Regions from separate parts of the Homo sapiens genome. Here region 1 is linked to region 2. The links come from fine-mapping of genetic effects on gene expression. Tissue or cell type: testis. Region 2 holds a variant in brackets; the other region holds the start of a gene. All regions are shown on one strand. Distances are from middle to middle.

What was found. PIP is the estimated chance that this variant, and not a neighbour inherited with it, causes the effect.
Region 1: it holds the start of PDZD2, and the variant in region 2 is fine-mapped to the expression of PDZD2 in testis (GTEx, PIP above 0.99).

The regions. Positions count from the first base shown.
Region 1 is chr5:31,634,621-31,642,725 of GRCh38, forward strand. It overlaps PDZD2 (PDZ domain containing 2), which reads left to right and starts at 4,511. Exons shown (of 25, transcript NM_178140.4): 1 at 4,511-4,817. RefSeq lists a silencer at 4,465-4,814.
Region 2 is chr5:32,102,725-32,110,829 of GRCh38, forward strand. PDZD2 (PDZ domain containing 2) reads left to right here. Exons shown (of 25, transcript NM_178140.4): 25 at 5,245-8,105. The coding sequence ends at 5,411. It overlaps LOC105374711 (a long non-coding RNA gene), which reads right to left and starts at 5,467. Exons shown (of 4, transcript XR_007058716.1): 1 at 3,564-5,467; 2 at 3,400-3,456; 3 at 1-1,228. The variant C/T (reference allele first, on the strand shown) is at 4,551.

The sequences.
Region 1 (8,105 bases), 470 kb before region 2:
AGCTCGGCCTCTCAAAGTGCTGGGATTACAGGCGTGAGCCACCACGCCAGGCCTGTCTTGCTGGTGTCTTAATGTGTGTTAAGCAAGTAAACTCAAAGGTAAATCAAATCCCACCACAGTCCAAAAGAATCTACTTGGATAAACACTACACTCTACCCTATTGCAAAATGATTGAATCATCTATATAAATTGTGAAAGTCATACGTGGTCTGTAGTTACTAGTTTGTAATTCAGTTTTTTCTGCCAAAAATTGTATAAAAAAATTACCGTGGCAACCAATGCTTCAATAGTACAAATGGAAGGCTGAGAGACAAAGATATAAAATAATGGGTTGGCTTGTAAGGGGAAGCCCAGGAGAAAATTACAAATTCTTCACGTGCAGTATTATTAGACCACACTGGAAACAATAAAACACATTTGCATAAAATCCAACGTCACGCTCATGGATACAGTGAAACTCATTTTCAATGTACGTGGATGAAAAGTGCTTACTTAAACCTTTCCCCTAAATATATATTTTAAGACAGTATGGGCTGGGTGCAGTGGCTCACGCCTGTAATCCCAGCACTTTGGGAGGCCGAGGCAGGCGGATCACCTGAGGTCAGGAGTTTGAGACCAGCCTGGCCAACATGGTGGAACCCTGTCTCTACTAAAAATACAAAAATTAGCTGGGGGTGGTGGTGGGCACCTGTAATCCCAAGTACTCAGGAGGCTGAGGCAGGAGAATCACTTGAACCCAGGAGGCAGAGGTTGCAGGGAGCCAAGATCGCGCCATTGCACTCCAGCCTGGGCAAAAAGAGCGACACTTCATCTCAAAAAAAAAAAAAAAGAAAGAAAGAAAGAAAAAGAAAAAAACCAGTATGCATCAAATGCAGGTCCTTTTTTGTGTTTTGGCTAAATAAAATATTTCATCTGAGACGGGATAAATATTACAACATTTTTATCAATGTTTAAAATAAAGTCTTATCTCTACAGTACTATGACCAAGTACTGGAATGTGACCTTGGGCACCCTCTCAGCTGTCATGTCACTCTACTTCAGTGTTTCTCCAAGTTATCCTGTGTGGGCCACCCAAATTACAATCACTGGGGTTCTGGTTAAGGGGCATCCAGGGGCTCCCCAAAGACCAAGTATATAGTGATCTCAGGGGGTGAGTCTGGAGTTTTTTAAATTTTCAAACTTCTGGGAATCCTTAAGTGTAGTCCAGACTGAGATCCACTGACTTAATGTTTTACTACCATCGTCACTCATTTGTTCTTTTTCTTTGAGACGGAGTCTTGCTCTGACTCCCAGAGAGGAGTACAGTGGCGTGATCTTGGCTTACTGCAAACTTCACCTCCCAGGCTCAAGCAATTCTCCTGCCTCAGCCTCCCCAGTAGCTGGGATTACAGGCGCCCGCTATCATGCCCAGCTAACTTTTGCATTTTTAGCAGAAGCTGGGTTTCACCCTGTTGGCCAGGCTGGTCTCGAACTCCTGACCTCAAGTGATCCGCCCCTCTCGGCCTTCCAAAGTGCTGGGATTACAGGCATGAGCCAGGGCACTTGGCCTCATTTGTTCTTTTTAAGCCCCTTTCTTGGCCAGGAGATGGCTCGTTCTAGCGTGAGGTCATGAATGGAAGAGTTAGTGGCCAGGAATTTGTGGAAGAAAGAAAAAAGGGTAATTCGCTAGGTAAACAGGAAGCTAGAATCTGTTTTGGAGATAAAATGAACCCACAGAGGCTGGGAGGAGAAAGGGAATTGAGCCAGTTGTTGACTAAGGCTACTTCTCCTCCCTTGAAATTTACTTGGAAGAGCAGCTGAGGCGGAAAGATGGAAAGCAGTCTTTTCAAGAGTTGGTAAGCAAACCTCCAGTTTTAGTTTCAGCTGCCTGGTCTGTAGATTTTTCTTCATAGAGGGAGAAAGCTCAGAAGTAAACCACATGGCACTGCAATCCATGAGAATCTACTTGGACTCACCTAAACCACGCTACATTCTGTCACTGATATAGCTTGGGATCACACATTTTTTCTTTGTTTATCATTTTAATCTTCCTTTGCTCTGAAGTCTTAGATATTCTATATACAGCCTCCTCCTCCTCCACATCACATATATTATGAGCACTAAATTAAAATGGCAACTTTGATAGAAATACTAATCTGTGACTAAATGTTTAACAAGGGGGCAAAAAGGATTTACATTTTGATCTTCAAACATTGGAAAATAAATGCCCTCAGTTGTCAGCTTTCCAAATTGACAAGACTGCAAGGGCAAAACAAAATTTCCATGCATTTGATTGACCTCTGTGAATTGAGCTATTATTAGCAGATAAGAACTTGCCAAAAATATCTGGAAAATATCAGCTGAAAAGTGATTGAAACGAAGTATTTAAAGCAGGTCAGCAGGGCCATGTCTGAAGGAGACAGATTATAAAATACATCTGTATATATTGTATTTATACATAATATATGCCACATATAACATACATGTATATACCTAACAATTCATTTTAATTCAGCAAATATTTATTGAGTGGCTATTGGGTCGGACACCATGCCACCCTAGGCTTTGGGAACACAAACAATAAGCTTTAAGTTCTCTTACCTCCAAGAACTCACAAGCTAGAAATATGTGAGACAAAACGCCATAATTCCTACAACATAATACACCTGACAAGGGTTAGATGAGCAATTTGCATAAAGTGCTACCATTGCAGCAATTAACAAGGCAGAGGAAACGTGATGTTTGTTCTGATGATCAGAGAAGCCTTTCCAGTAGAGATGACATTTACCTCCTTGGGATTTCAGCAGACACAGGAGAGTGAGAATGTCACTCTGGCAGAGGAAACAGAATTTACAGATTAGGAGTACATGGCTGGAATGAAAGAGTTGGGGATGGAGTGGATAAGAAATAGCAGTGACTACAGTTTGAGTGATACATTTATTTGCATATTCATTGATTCAGCAAACTTTTCATTGGTGCTGAGGGAGGTAGGCCCAAGGTATGTGCTGGGTACAGAGGCTGAGAAAACACGGGACAGAGTGGTGGAAGATGGGCCTGGGATTGTGGAAAAAACAGAAAGCACCAGCCCTGTTTGATCCTTCTAGAAGGATTTTTTTGTAGTGTCCCAATGATACCTTTCATTGATAATGGTTACCATTTCATTGAGCACCTCCTAAGTGCTGTGCTGAATAGCTGTGTTACTGCTAGTTCCAGCAATCCTGCATGGTAGGTGTTTTCTCTATTTACACATAGGAAGAGAAGCTCTGAGTGCCTGAGTGCCCAGCTTGTCATATACGATGCTTGGATTTGTGCAAGCATTGATCTCAATGGCCTGGTAATTATAAAAGCTGAAGAACAGCTGAAATCAAGAACTTCTCCACCCCAGCCCCTGAGGACAATACCACCTCCAAATGCCTTGGGCCCACTCTGGTCTCTGGTGTGGTGGGACAGCGCTGTCCGGTCTGCGCAGGTGATTTATGTCTGCCTGCTTTTCGGAGAGGCCAGAGTTTATTGCCTTGCTGGGCAGAACTGCAGCTGGGGCCTGCCCTGTCCCATCCCCATCCCCCCGAAAGCAAAGATTTCCAATTACTGTTCTGTAGAAAATGTCAAAAGCATTATTCAACTATTCATTATCCCAGGTTTTGCAATTTTTCATATGTTTTTACTCTTATCTGCCAGCACTTGAAAAAGACCAGCTTTTTCCTCTTAAGAGAGCTTAATTTGCAGAGCTGTGCAGTCTTCCTATTATGTTCTTATCATCCTCTCCCTTTGGTAGGCAGAATGACAAGGATGACAAAAAAAGAACCAAAAATATTTGAAGGCCTTCCTGAAAATCCACCGGAATGAAGGATCCCAAAAGCCTGAGGCTCGGTTCCTCGAGTGACCTGGACGGGAGCCAAGGGCGGCTGGCATTAGCTCTCACAGTCCACTCGGCAGGAGCTCGTGGCTAGTGCTCATGGGACCAAAACCACCACCCCAGGGCCATGGGATTCCCCCCCAGGGGCTTAACTGGGGGATTAAGCAGCTCTGAGGTGCCAAGAGGTCCCCTCTCCCCGAAATCCTCGTACCAGTGCTAAATTACCTTTGGTATCCCAAGGACCAGAGGCTAAGGGTAGCTTGGGGTGAGTGGTTAGCTCTTCCCCCATCTCCTGTGGCCCCTCCGCCCCATTCTTTGATAAGGTAACTGACATTTTTCTCTTTGCTGTGTAAAGTGCTATGCAGAGGCAACTTCACGTCCCCTAGCTCGCTCTGTTCCACCTAGATGGCGCCCTAAGCCCCGCCTGTATGGAGATTCGGAGCAGCCATCTCCCTGGATGCCTTCCTCCCACGATCCCCAGGTTTCTGAAGCGGGCGCACCAGGACTCCTGGCTCACCCAGAGAGACGCCTTGCCCGCGGCGGGGCTCGCTCGGGGAAATCCCCGCCCACCTTGTTATTCCTGCAGGGGAATCCCCGCCCCCCGTCCCTGTCACTCGGGGAAGGGAGTTCCCGCCCCTCGAATCAACCAGGGGGAGGGAATCCCCGCCCATCCTGGAGGCTCGGCGGATCCCCTGCGCAGCGAGGCGAGGAGCGGACCCCAGCGCCGGTGCGTGCCGGCCCCGGGCAGCGGGACGCGGCGGGGCGGCGGCTGCAGGCAGCCGAGGAGCCGCAGGCCGAACCCAAGGCACCGGGATTGCGCCTCCCGCGGCTGCCGGCGAACCGCGGCTCTGCAGCTCGGGGCAGGCGCGGCGGCGGCACCGGTGGTGGCCGCGGTGGCGGCAGCTGCGCGGGGACCCGCCGGGCGGCGCCTGGGTCTGGACGCGCGAGGAAGCCGCGGGAGCCTCGGCCAAGCCGCGAGCAGGTGAAGCGACCGTCCCGCTGCAGCCGGGACGCGCGGCTCCGGGTGGGCAGGGGATGGGGGAGGCCCGGCACCCCCGAGACCGTGTGTGCCCAGGAAAGTTTAGCTACAAATCCGGGTGCGGGAATCCCAGCCCTGGCAGGGCGGGGAGTGAGGACGCCGAACCGGGGTCCCACGTTGGGCGGCGCAAACTCCTCTAGCATCCGGCCGGGGACGGGGAGGGCGCAGCCCAGGGGAGGGGGCTAGACAGAGCGGGACCGAGACAGCGGGACAACCGGAGACGCACTGCCGGGGGTACTCAAGACAGGGCCGGGACCTCCTGCTCGGGCGCGCATCCCGGGTCCCCATCCCTGGGCCGTCTTCTGGTCCCTTCCTCCGACAGGAGTGGAGGTACTCAGGTACTCCGGCCTCAGGTAATGTCTTGGGGACCATCCTCCCTCGGGCTTGTTTCATCTCTCAACCCCCGCCTCTTTGCCCAGATGAGACGTTAGACGCGGGGCGAGGGAATGCAGGGGGCGCGCAAAGATCAAGGGCATCTTAGGGCCGGTTATTGGCGTCTGCCGGGGAGATGGGGAACATAGTGATAGGGAAATCCTGCTCTCTCTCTGAAGTCGAGTTTCTCCTAAAATCTGGTTTCTCCCTCCCTCTGTTCCTCTCTCCCTCCCTCGGGTTTGCGTTTGTGTTTTAAGTCTTTGAGCTGCCTGTGGTCCCCGCTATTTGGAAAATCCATTAAAGCGCAAGGCTGAATTCAGCAGCAGGAGGGTCCAGGACCCCTGGCAGGAGTTTGCCAGAAGCTGTCCTCGGCAGCCCAAATCTATGCAGAGACCTTGATAAGGGACACTGGAGTGGGAAGAGGACAAGGTCTGGCATGGGCTGGTCGCAGAGACTGGAATGGCAGGCACGAGGGCATTCCAGAGCTCCAGACCTGCCCTGGGACTGGCCGTTGGGCAGTGTTGGGGGATGGAGCTGAGTCTGAGTCTGTCCCCTGCAGCTGGCCTAACCTCTTGCCTCCACCAAAGGTAGGGTAGGTGGATATGTTTGCCTTGACAAATCGCAATGAAACTACTGGAAGTGGTTGCTGAGTGGCTGCAGTAAGTGATGCCCTGATCTGTCCTTGCAGAGAGACCCCCTGGACCTTCAGGGCCTGTTCTCCAGTGGGGTCTCTGAACACTGGAGGGCTTTAGGGGCCTGGCATCTCTACTGGGCCAGCTTTTGTGGGTTGTGACTTCTGGGTGGTGGCCAGATAGGTACAGGTTGGCAGGTGTGAAGTGGGAGTGCTGCTTGTGGGGGCAGAAGAGAATGTCTCAGAACACACCCCTGGCTGTAGGTGGTGGTTCTGGCTTCATGAATTCCTTCTTCCATTAGGATGGGCCCAGAGCTTCTGCTCCTATAATAACCACCTAGTTGTGTGAGTGAGTGTGTGTGTTGCGGGGGTTAGGTGTAGGAGTAGGGGGGTGGCAGGTGCTAGGAGAGGAAAAATCAGAACCATGTAAAGTATATAAATGTACCTACCTTGACATAGTTAATATGCTCCTGGAAAAATATTGAATTATACTTTAAATCTATCGCTGAAATTGATTTTGCATGTACTTTATGGCAGTTTACTATTTAAGGAAACTTATGATAATTTCTCTGTTCATTTCAATCATTTTATTTTTGGAATACCTGTGGTTTGCTGTGCTGGAGGCTGAGGAGGCTTCGAGGTTCCAGGATATGCTTAGATGAAAGATGCTCCCTCGCTGCTGTCAGTTTGTCAGTTTCTGTCCAGCAGGAGAAGGGAGAGAAGCCTGCTAAGCACTATGGTGCAGACCAGTGCACATGCTGCATGTAGTAGACGCCATGTGTTTATTGGATGAAGGAGTGAAGAGATAATTAAGTGAGTAAAGTACCTGAAGAGTGGTCCAAATAAAACATTTTGGGAGTATGGAGGAAAAAGAAGTCACTTTTGCCAGAGAGGATCTGAAAGGCTTTGTGGAGGAGCTCTTAGGTAGAAGTCGAGAGGTTGATCCTGAGTTAGGACTCAGTGCTAAGGACTCAGAGGAACTAAGGACTCAGAGGAACTAAGGACTCAGAGGAACTTAGTTCTCCAGATAGTAGGGAGATGTGTGAGATATTTTTTTTTTTTGAGACTGGGTCTCATTGTTGCCCAGACTCAAGCAATCCTCCCACCTCAGCCTCCTGAGTAACTGGGATCACAGGTGTGTGTTACCACAACCAGATAATTTTTGTGTTTTTTGTGGAGATGGGTTTCACCATGTTGCTTATGCTGGTCTCGAACTCCTGGGCTCAAGTGATCCTGGTGTCTTGGTCTCCCAACGTGCTGGAATTAGAGGCATGAGTCACTGCGCCCAACCTGGCCCCTCGTTCTGCTCCTACACAACCCTTTAGCACACTCACCATGCTGCCCTGGGTGTGTTTCTTTAGGGCCTTATTTTTTTCATACCCAGATAAGGCCTGGAACAGTTGCTAATCAACTTCCTCAGGTTAGACAGGAAAAGAGGCAGAGGGAACACCCCAGACCCCACTACCCCCGGCTGATCATACTGTAGGGTGTTGTGGAAACCCTCTCCCAGAGGCTCCAGGCCTGGTGAGCTGAACAAGATAACACAGAGCTGTGGATACCCCCTTGCCTTTGATCATGTGGGCCTAAGTGACTCGGACCATGGTGGTGGGGGCATCTCTGTTGGAAGGTCTCTCCTACTGCACCATCCACAAGGGGACAAATTCCAAAGATGAACCCACAAAAGGTCAGGAGCAAATCCAAAGAGAGGCTGAATCTCTTTAAGAAGACAGACTTAGAGACTCAAGTTTTCAGCTTCTTTCTTCTGCCCTCAGACACATCCCCGCAGCACCAGGGAGGATGCTGAGGTCAGAGTTGAGTTTCAAGGACAGGAAGAGCTATGCAGACAAGCCCATGAGAGAGGTTAGCAGACAAGTGGAGAGGCAGGGATGTCTCAGAGACGCCCATCCCCAGAAGGATGATAGGAAAAGGCCACTGATAGAACAGTGTCTGCAAGGGGTGTTCATGAAGCCAGGCTGCAAGGGAAGAAGGAGACAATGATTGCCAAGACAGTGAAACTGCAGGTATAGACACTGGATCCAGAAGTGTGCTGTTTGAAAATAATCCACAGTATTTTGAGGAGGTTGTAGCATTGAAGGAGGGTTTATTCATGAGAGTCCCTCCATTCTCCCTCCCAGGCATGTTTGGTAAACAAAAGAGATGTGGGAGAGAGTAGAGAAGCTAGATCAGGGGTGTTTGGGCTGGAAGAGGTGAGCAAGTGCAGGGAAAGA
Region 2 (8,105 bases):
CAGGAATGTTACCCATGAAACAGGACCGAAGAGGGTATTCAGAAGGAGCAAGCAAATATGTAAAAAAAACAAAATGCAAGCTGGGTGTGGTAGCGCATGCCTGTAGTCTCAGCTCCTTGCACTGCTTGAGCCCCAGGAGTTCAATACCAGCCTCAACAGCAGAGCAAGACCCTGCTTCTTTAAAAGTAAAAACTAAATGCACATACACCCTCATTAGTGAAAATGGAGTTAAATGTATTTTTAAATTAATGAGTAAAAGTAAAAAATAGACTAAATCCATGTGAAGATAGATAGAATTTGTAAAAACAGAACAGAAGAAACCATTAAAAAATGCAGTATAGGGAAATAAAGAGATGACTACAAAAAGGTAATGAAAGAGTTCCAGAAGGAAAAAACAGAATGAGAGGAAATATTTGCAGAAATCATGACTAAGAATTTTCCAGAAGTGAAAAAATGACAGGACTATGCAGACTGAAAAACTCATCAAGGGGCAAAACAATCTGAATGTATTTATTTAAAACAAACAAACAAACAAAAAACAAGCCTTGTTAGGCAGAGTGGTGCACACCTGTGATCCCAGCTACTTAGGAGGCTGAGGCAGAAGGATCGCTTCAGCCCTGGACTTGGAGGCTGCAGTGAGCAGGACTGCACCATTGCACTCCAGCCTGGATGACAGAGTAGGACCCTGTCTCCAAAAAAAATAAAATTCAAACCTTGATATAATAAAGTTTCAGAATATAAAGAAGAAAATCTAGAAAGCCAAGAGAAAATTCTAGTTTGCTCACTGCATACAACAATCAGAGTGGCGGCATCAATGCCTGAAGCCAGCAACACCTTCAGAGGACTGAGGGAAAATGTCCATCACCTGAAAACCCAGCACCCAGCTAACCTGTCATTCAATAGGGTAGCTAAAATGGAGGTATTTTAAGACACTCCTGAGGGGAGCGGGAGTGGCCGCCTTCGTGGTTGGTCACAGGACACGTAGCCTCTGCAGTCCAAAGGGACACAACCCAAAAAAGCGTGTGAGCCTGCGAACCGAAGGACCAGGGCAGACGCTGACTAAAGCAGCACATCGGCTGGGGAAGCCAGGCTTCGGGACCCCACACTAGAAGAAGCCACAGGAGAGATGACATCCTTCAGATCTGCCTCCAGCAAAGCAAGAATATGACGTCCTGGACAACTTCTCAGCCTTTGTCTCTAGCATCTGGCCACAAATCTGTGAAAACTGCTATGGAAATGGATAGAGAAGAAGAAAATTGTCAGTCCCACAGACTAGCGCTTTAGATGCTCTCGTGTGCAAGCCTGTGGTTTTGTTCTTGGGGAAAGCCATTCAAGTATTTCTGAGTATGATACGGCAGATCCCACCTTTGGAAACTAGTGAGACTAAAGATGTCATTATCTGGCCGGGCATGGTGGCTCATGCTTGTAATCCCGGCACTTTGGGAGGCTAAGGCAGGCGAATCACTTGAGGTCAGGATTCACCTTATCTCGTATTTCATATTTACAAATTTCATGAGTACAGGTTTTCTGTTCATTTTGTTTTCCTGTGTCTTTAAGCTCAAGCATTAGAAAACAATATAGCAAGACTGATTTCTTTGAGTAAGGTTATTACAGAACAAGCATTTGAATAATAAAGAATTTTTTTTTTTTTAACAGGGTCTAGCTCTGTCACCCAGGCTGGAGTGCAGTGTCACAATCTCTGCTCACTGCAATCTCTGCCTCCCAGGTTCAAGTGAATCTGGTGTCTCAGCCTCCTAAGCAGCCCAAGGTGGGTGGACCACCTGAGGTCAGGAGTTAGAGACCAGCCTGGCCAACATGGTGAAACCCCGTCTCTACTAAAAATATGTTAGCTGGGCATTGTGGTGCATGCCTGTAATCCCAGCTACTCAGGAGGCTGAGGCAGGAGAGTCACTTGAACCCAGGAGGCGGAGGTTGCAGTGAGCCAGGACCACACCACTGCACTCCAGCCTGGGGTCAGAGAAGGCTCCATCTAAAAAAAAAAAAAAAAAAAAAAAAAAAAAACATATAAAATGTTCATTATATGGCAAAATTTATAAGCAAATTCAAAAGTAAGTGATTAGAAGATATTTACAATATATTTAATAAACAAAGGGTTGATATCCAGAATAGGCAGGGTACCGTGGCTCACACCTGTAATCCCAGCACTTTGGAGACCAAGGTGGGCAGATCACTTGAGCCCAGGAGTTCAAGACCGGTCTGGGCCACATGACGAGACTCCACCTCTACAAAAAATACAGAAATTACTCGGGTGTGGCGGCACGCACCTATAGTCCCAGCTACTCAGGAGCTGAGGTGGGAGAATCATTTGAGCCCAGGAGGTCGAGGCTGTGGTGAGCCATGGTTGTGCCACAGCACTCCAGCCTGGGTGACAGAGGGAGACCTTGTCTCAAAAAAAAACAATCAATCAATCAATCAATCAATCCAGAATATATGAAGAACTATATAATTCAGTAAGAAAAATACAAGAGAGAAAGTTTGGGTAAAGAAAGCAATAGCAAATGGACAGAAGTTAAAACCTAGGTGGCCAAGAAACACAGGAAGATGCTCAAACTTAAATGTATTGGATGAAAATTAGAAATATTATAAATCATTCTTTTAATCTATCAAGTTGGCCAAAAATAAAAAATCTCATACTATGATGTGTTGGCAAGGATGTGGAGAAAGGAAAACACATTTTTTTTCTCGTGCAAGTATCTACTGGTTAATCTTTAAGGAAAATTTTAGCAGTGCTTACGAAAATGGAAGCTATGAAACAATTTAAATTTCTATCTGTAGCAGAATAAAATATATTCATCTAAAGGAAAGCTAAATAGCAGTTGAAAAAATAAATTACACCTCTCTCTATATACTAACTGGGACCGGCTCAAAAACAGTGTTGAATGAAAAAAAGCCAAATGCAGATTGTGCACTGTGTGACACCAATTCATGGTAAGCATAAGGAACCTAAGAATGTGTTCAACAAAAGCTATGCAAGACCTTTTTGGGAAAAAGCATAAAAGCTTTCTAAAGGACAATTTTAAAAAATCTATGAGTAAATGGAGAGAGAGACATATCCTGCTCAAATCTGTTAAGATTCAGTTTGGCCTCATGTAATAGGAAATCCAAAATAGCAGTGGTTTAAACGAGAGAATTTATTTCTCTCTTGTGTAAAAAGTCCAAAAGCTGGCAAACCTCTGCTTTGTACAACACTGAATGTTTCCTAAAGGAGCAGTCCCCAAGCTTTTTGGCACCAGGGACTGGTTTTGTGGAAGACAATTTTTCCATGGTGAGGGTTTGGGTGGGGGATGGTTTCAGGATGATTCAGGTGCATTACATTTATTGTATACTTTATTTCTGTTATTACATTTTAATATATAATGAAATAATTATACAACTCACCATCACGTAGAATCTGTGGGAGCCCTGAGCTTGTTTTCTTGCAACCAGGCATCCCATCTGGGGGTGATGGGAGACAATGACAGATCATCAGGCATTAGATTCTCATAAGGAACATGCAACCTAGATCCCTCGCATATGCAGTTCACAATAGGGTTCACACTCACGTGAGAATCTAATGCTGCTGCTGATCTGACAGGAGGCAGAGCTCAGGTGGTAGTGTGAGTGACGGTGAGAGGCTGTGAACAGAGGAAGCTTTGCTCACTCACCCACTGCTCACCTGCTGTGCAGCCCTCCTGCCACCAGTCTGTGGCCCAAGGGTTGAGGACCCCTGTCCTAGAAGACTTTCCTCTACTTCATCTCATTCAGTCCTTCTAACAACCTAGTAAGATAACAAGACAGATATCATCATCACCATTTTGCAGATGAGAAAACTGGAGTTTGGAGAAATCTGTAACTTGCCTGAAGTCACAGATTTGAGACCAAACCCAGTCTGATTGCTCCTTCAGTGTGCGTCAGGCTGTTCTGGTTGCCTGGAACCTCCCATGTCCTGAAGCCCAGGTGAACACTCACAAAATTCTTTTGTTTCACATAACCTGAAGGCCTTCGGTTAATATGCTAGAATAGGACATTGGGTACTAAGTTAACACAAATATAATTGGTTCTTTGGTCCTTCCAAAAATGTATCTATCTCAAGAAAAGCAAGGACTAGGGACCAAATCATTTTCCTGGGGCCCACTACAGGGCTGATATTGGTGAGGTCTCTCTTCTAATGTAACTAACTGCCTCTATCATTTACCACAGAAAATGTTTTTGTCCTTGTGTGGGCTGGATTTCTTCCAAGCTGTATTTTTATCACATAATATTTATTTCAATAATTTCAATAACGACTTTCAGTAATTTAGGATGAAATCGATACATCTGCTCAGTCTTTTGAGGTCTAATCAAAATTTCTGAGAAAATTTTTTTCACACTTGGGACTTTTTCTTTCAATGCCATTTTTTTTCCATAAGATGCCTCCATAGCTGGTGTACCTTTAGAAGTATATGTGTGAGAACGTAAATGGAGGGTTTACACTTGCATTTTTTTCAAAGCTCATACAAAGCTAGACAAAGCTATAATGTGAACATGCTAAACTCTGTAAGTAAGTAGTC[C/T]CCATGGTCACTAATGAGCACATAATCACTGATTCTCAGAACTTGCATATATCAGCCAGAATCTGTTAACAATTAGAAGCTGACAGCCTGGGCAACATGGCAAGACCCCATCTCTACCAAAAATATAAAAAAAAAAGCTGTGCATGGTGGTGTATGCCTGTGGTAGCAGCTACTCTGAAGGCTGAGGTGAGAGGATCGCTTGAGCCCAGTGAGGCGGAGGCTGCAGCGAGCCAAAACTGTACCACTGCACTCCAGCCTGGGTGACAGTGTGAGGCCGTCTCAACAACAACAAAAAAAGTTGAACCTGCTTTTCTGTGTTTACTGGCTGTTTGGAGTTCAGCTGTTGATTTCCTTACCCCAACTTTATTTTGTGTTATTCTTGTTGACTTGTAGCTCTTTAGTCTGGATGTTAACCATTTGTTGATTAAATACATAGAGAGTATCTTCCCCTTGTCAGTTTATTTTTATCTTACAGATTATGTTTGGAGGGGCGGCAGGAGGGCTAGAGTTGCACTGTTTTCTGTAGACCAGTTTACTTTTATGGATATATGCTTTTTGTGTTCTAAGAAATATTTCTCTATTCAATAATATATTATTTAGATATTTTTATCACTTAAAAGTTTTTAGTTTACTTAGGATTTTTGAATACTATGAAACTGCCAAGCTATTAATTATTCTGTGTTTATTCTCGTAGGTGGTGCGGCTGAACAAGCTGGAATAATAGAAGCTGGAGATGAAATTCTTGCTATTAATGGGAAACCTCTGGTTGGGCTCATGCACTTTGATGCCTGGAATATTATGAAGTCTGTCCCAGAAGGACCTGTGCAGTTATTAATTAGAAAGCATAGGAATTCTTCATGAATTTTAACAAGAATCATTTTCTCAGTTCTCTTCTTTCTTTAGCAAATCAGAGTGACTTCTTTAAACCACAGGTTGTTGAAATGGCCAACACTGGTACAGACACGGACTATAAAAATCTCCAAGCTTGTGCTTACACATGAAGCCTGACTTAACTGTATGTGCAACAGCAATGAAATTAACTCCAGAAGCCTTCCACCTGCGTCACCCAGGCCGGGAGGGTTCCTTCGTTCCAGTGCCTGTCCCCTACCTTTATGTTATGTTTACTGATGGGGATACAAGATGTGACACACCCTTCTTTATTTGAAACAAACAAACATTTAGCTAGACCTTTGCTTCCTTCTTGCCAGCTCTCCCAACATACCCAATCCTGGTGATCAGGGAACTAAAAGTCTGAGGGGGACACAAATGTCACACCTAAGAGGACAATCAATCATTTTGTATGATTTTGTAAGTAAATGACAGAATGCTTTTAGGCACATTCAATGGAAGGAGGAGATGTAGGTCTGTATATGTTACCCTGAAAAGAGAATAAGACTTACTTAAAAAAATGAATTATGACCTGTTAGGCTGAGCTCAGGAATTGTCCAAAAAGGAAAAAGCAAAATAATTAATTGAGAGTATTTTTTAGTGAGTGTAATGTATAATGTACGTATGCAAAGTTCAACTCAATAGGTTATTGATCACCATGAAGTATTGATCATTTTCTATCTCAAAAGTGTAAGCCATAAGGCTGTTTTACAGAATAGCACTTCTGATAAGCTGTATTAAATAGCCATGAGCTTCACTGCTTAGAGGGAGCAGAAAGGTCAACATCTAAAAGCACCTTACAACTAGTTTTTGAACCTGTCTTGATAAGTGCTTGAATTCAAGACTGGTCAGTCCAAGAGCAGACAAAAATATCACAAGTCAGTCAGTCACTGGGTTTCCATTTCTGAATTTTATGCACTCCAACCATGAATTTAAACTAAATTTTTAGAAATCAAGTATCTTTCTAAGTGTCCTTGGATTTATAGACAATGTATGTACAATCCAAATAGAGGAGCTTAATGGAATCCTTTTAGGAGACTGGTTGGTTTTTTTCCCTCTTTCCCAACATGTTTAAGAAATGTAACATTCTAAGTATTGGATCTCTTTTCTTGACCTAGTATAATGACAACTGCAGTGACTTAAGTTTTTGCTGTTTTCGTTTTCCCGCTTTGCAATTTCCTCCTTTTGCCAAAAATGTTTTCCTACAGAAGACTGTCGTGACTCACGCTACTTGGGAAACTCACTCTGGCCACTCCTCCTCTGGTGGCATGAGCTGCTTCCCAGTAGCTATTCCGATTGGATATTCCGTTCGTCGTCACATAGCTGGCTTTTCTCTCCTCATGATGTACCTTATTTTCTTAGGTAAATAATTCCAAACTCTCATCGGGTCATAAAGAGGAGGAGAAACAGGGTGAGTCAAGGTAAAGGAGCAGAAATGTAGTTACAAGCCAGGTCGTCTTCAGTGGCACAAACCAACCCGTTGAGCCCTGACAACATGAGTGGAGAGTGCATTTGCCATACCTGTGTGCATGACACTAAGATTTTATGTTGGAGATACTTCTTTAAATAACCTACAGCTTGGGTCTATGGCTGTGACCCCCAGATTCATGGAGGGGCTTTAGCCATCAGCTTTGTACATCATCATTTTTCTGAATGACCAATCCCACTAAACATCTTTGAAGTCGGCCTAGAGAGGTCCTTCAGATGAGAGAGAAATAGCTGGCTTGTCTGAGTCCAGATTTCTCATCAACTGGCAATACAAAGGAAAATATGGTACAGGAGTTAGTTAGAAAGGTCTTATTGATTTTACTTCTACTTTTCACTACAGTTACAGGTAGAATACTGTAGGAAGTCAGTGCAAGGTGCATGCTTGATTGATAGATATTGATTGATTGTTTTTCAGTCTCTGGGGTCAGTTTTGTGGTTTCTGCTTTCTTGCCTAAATCAAAGACTATTTCAAGTCAACAACACTGAAAACTGCTTTTCGCCTCCACTCTTACAGCTGTGCCTAATAATAATTAATTAATAAACGCACAGCCCTATGTGAACAGACAGGAATTTCTTGTGCAATGTGGAGCAAATGGAATGGTCTCCTTCCGCAAGTCTTTTTAATCCTCATATCTGGAGTACAAGGGTAGACCTCTGGCTTACCACATACACTATGCTAAAGTCATCAGCCACTGCTACTACATCTTGCCAGAAGGTTTCCCTCGCCAACAAACAGTTGAAATTTAAGGGAAGAAGCAAAAGCTAAACTGTCTTTGACCCTAAGATAGATAGAAAGCTATTTATTTGTCTTCAGTGTTCAAGGCATGACTAGTATTTCTAATTAGCCTAATAAATTCCCACACTTTCTGAAGTGAACACTAATGGTATTGTCCTACTAAAACTGTCATTGTTTCTTTTTTTTTAACTGGTCAGTCATTCACAATAAGCTATGAGGGTAAATAAATATGTGTTATAACAAGTAAACCGTAGTTGCAAGAATATACCATGAAGATTAAAGTAGGCTGGGTTTCATTTCCATCTTCCCACACATCTCATTGAATTTGATGGTTGACTTAATTGGCACCATAACTTTGTATGATATTATACATTAACCTTTATTTATGTAAAGTAAAATGCCTTATATATTAAAGAGTAAGTGCAATAATATGAAATAGCCTG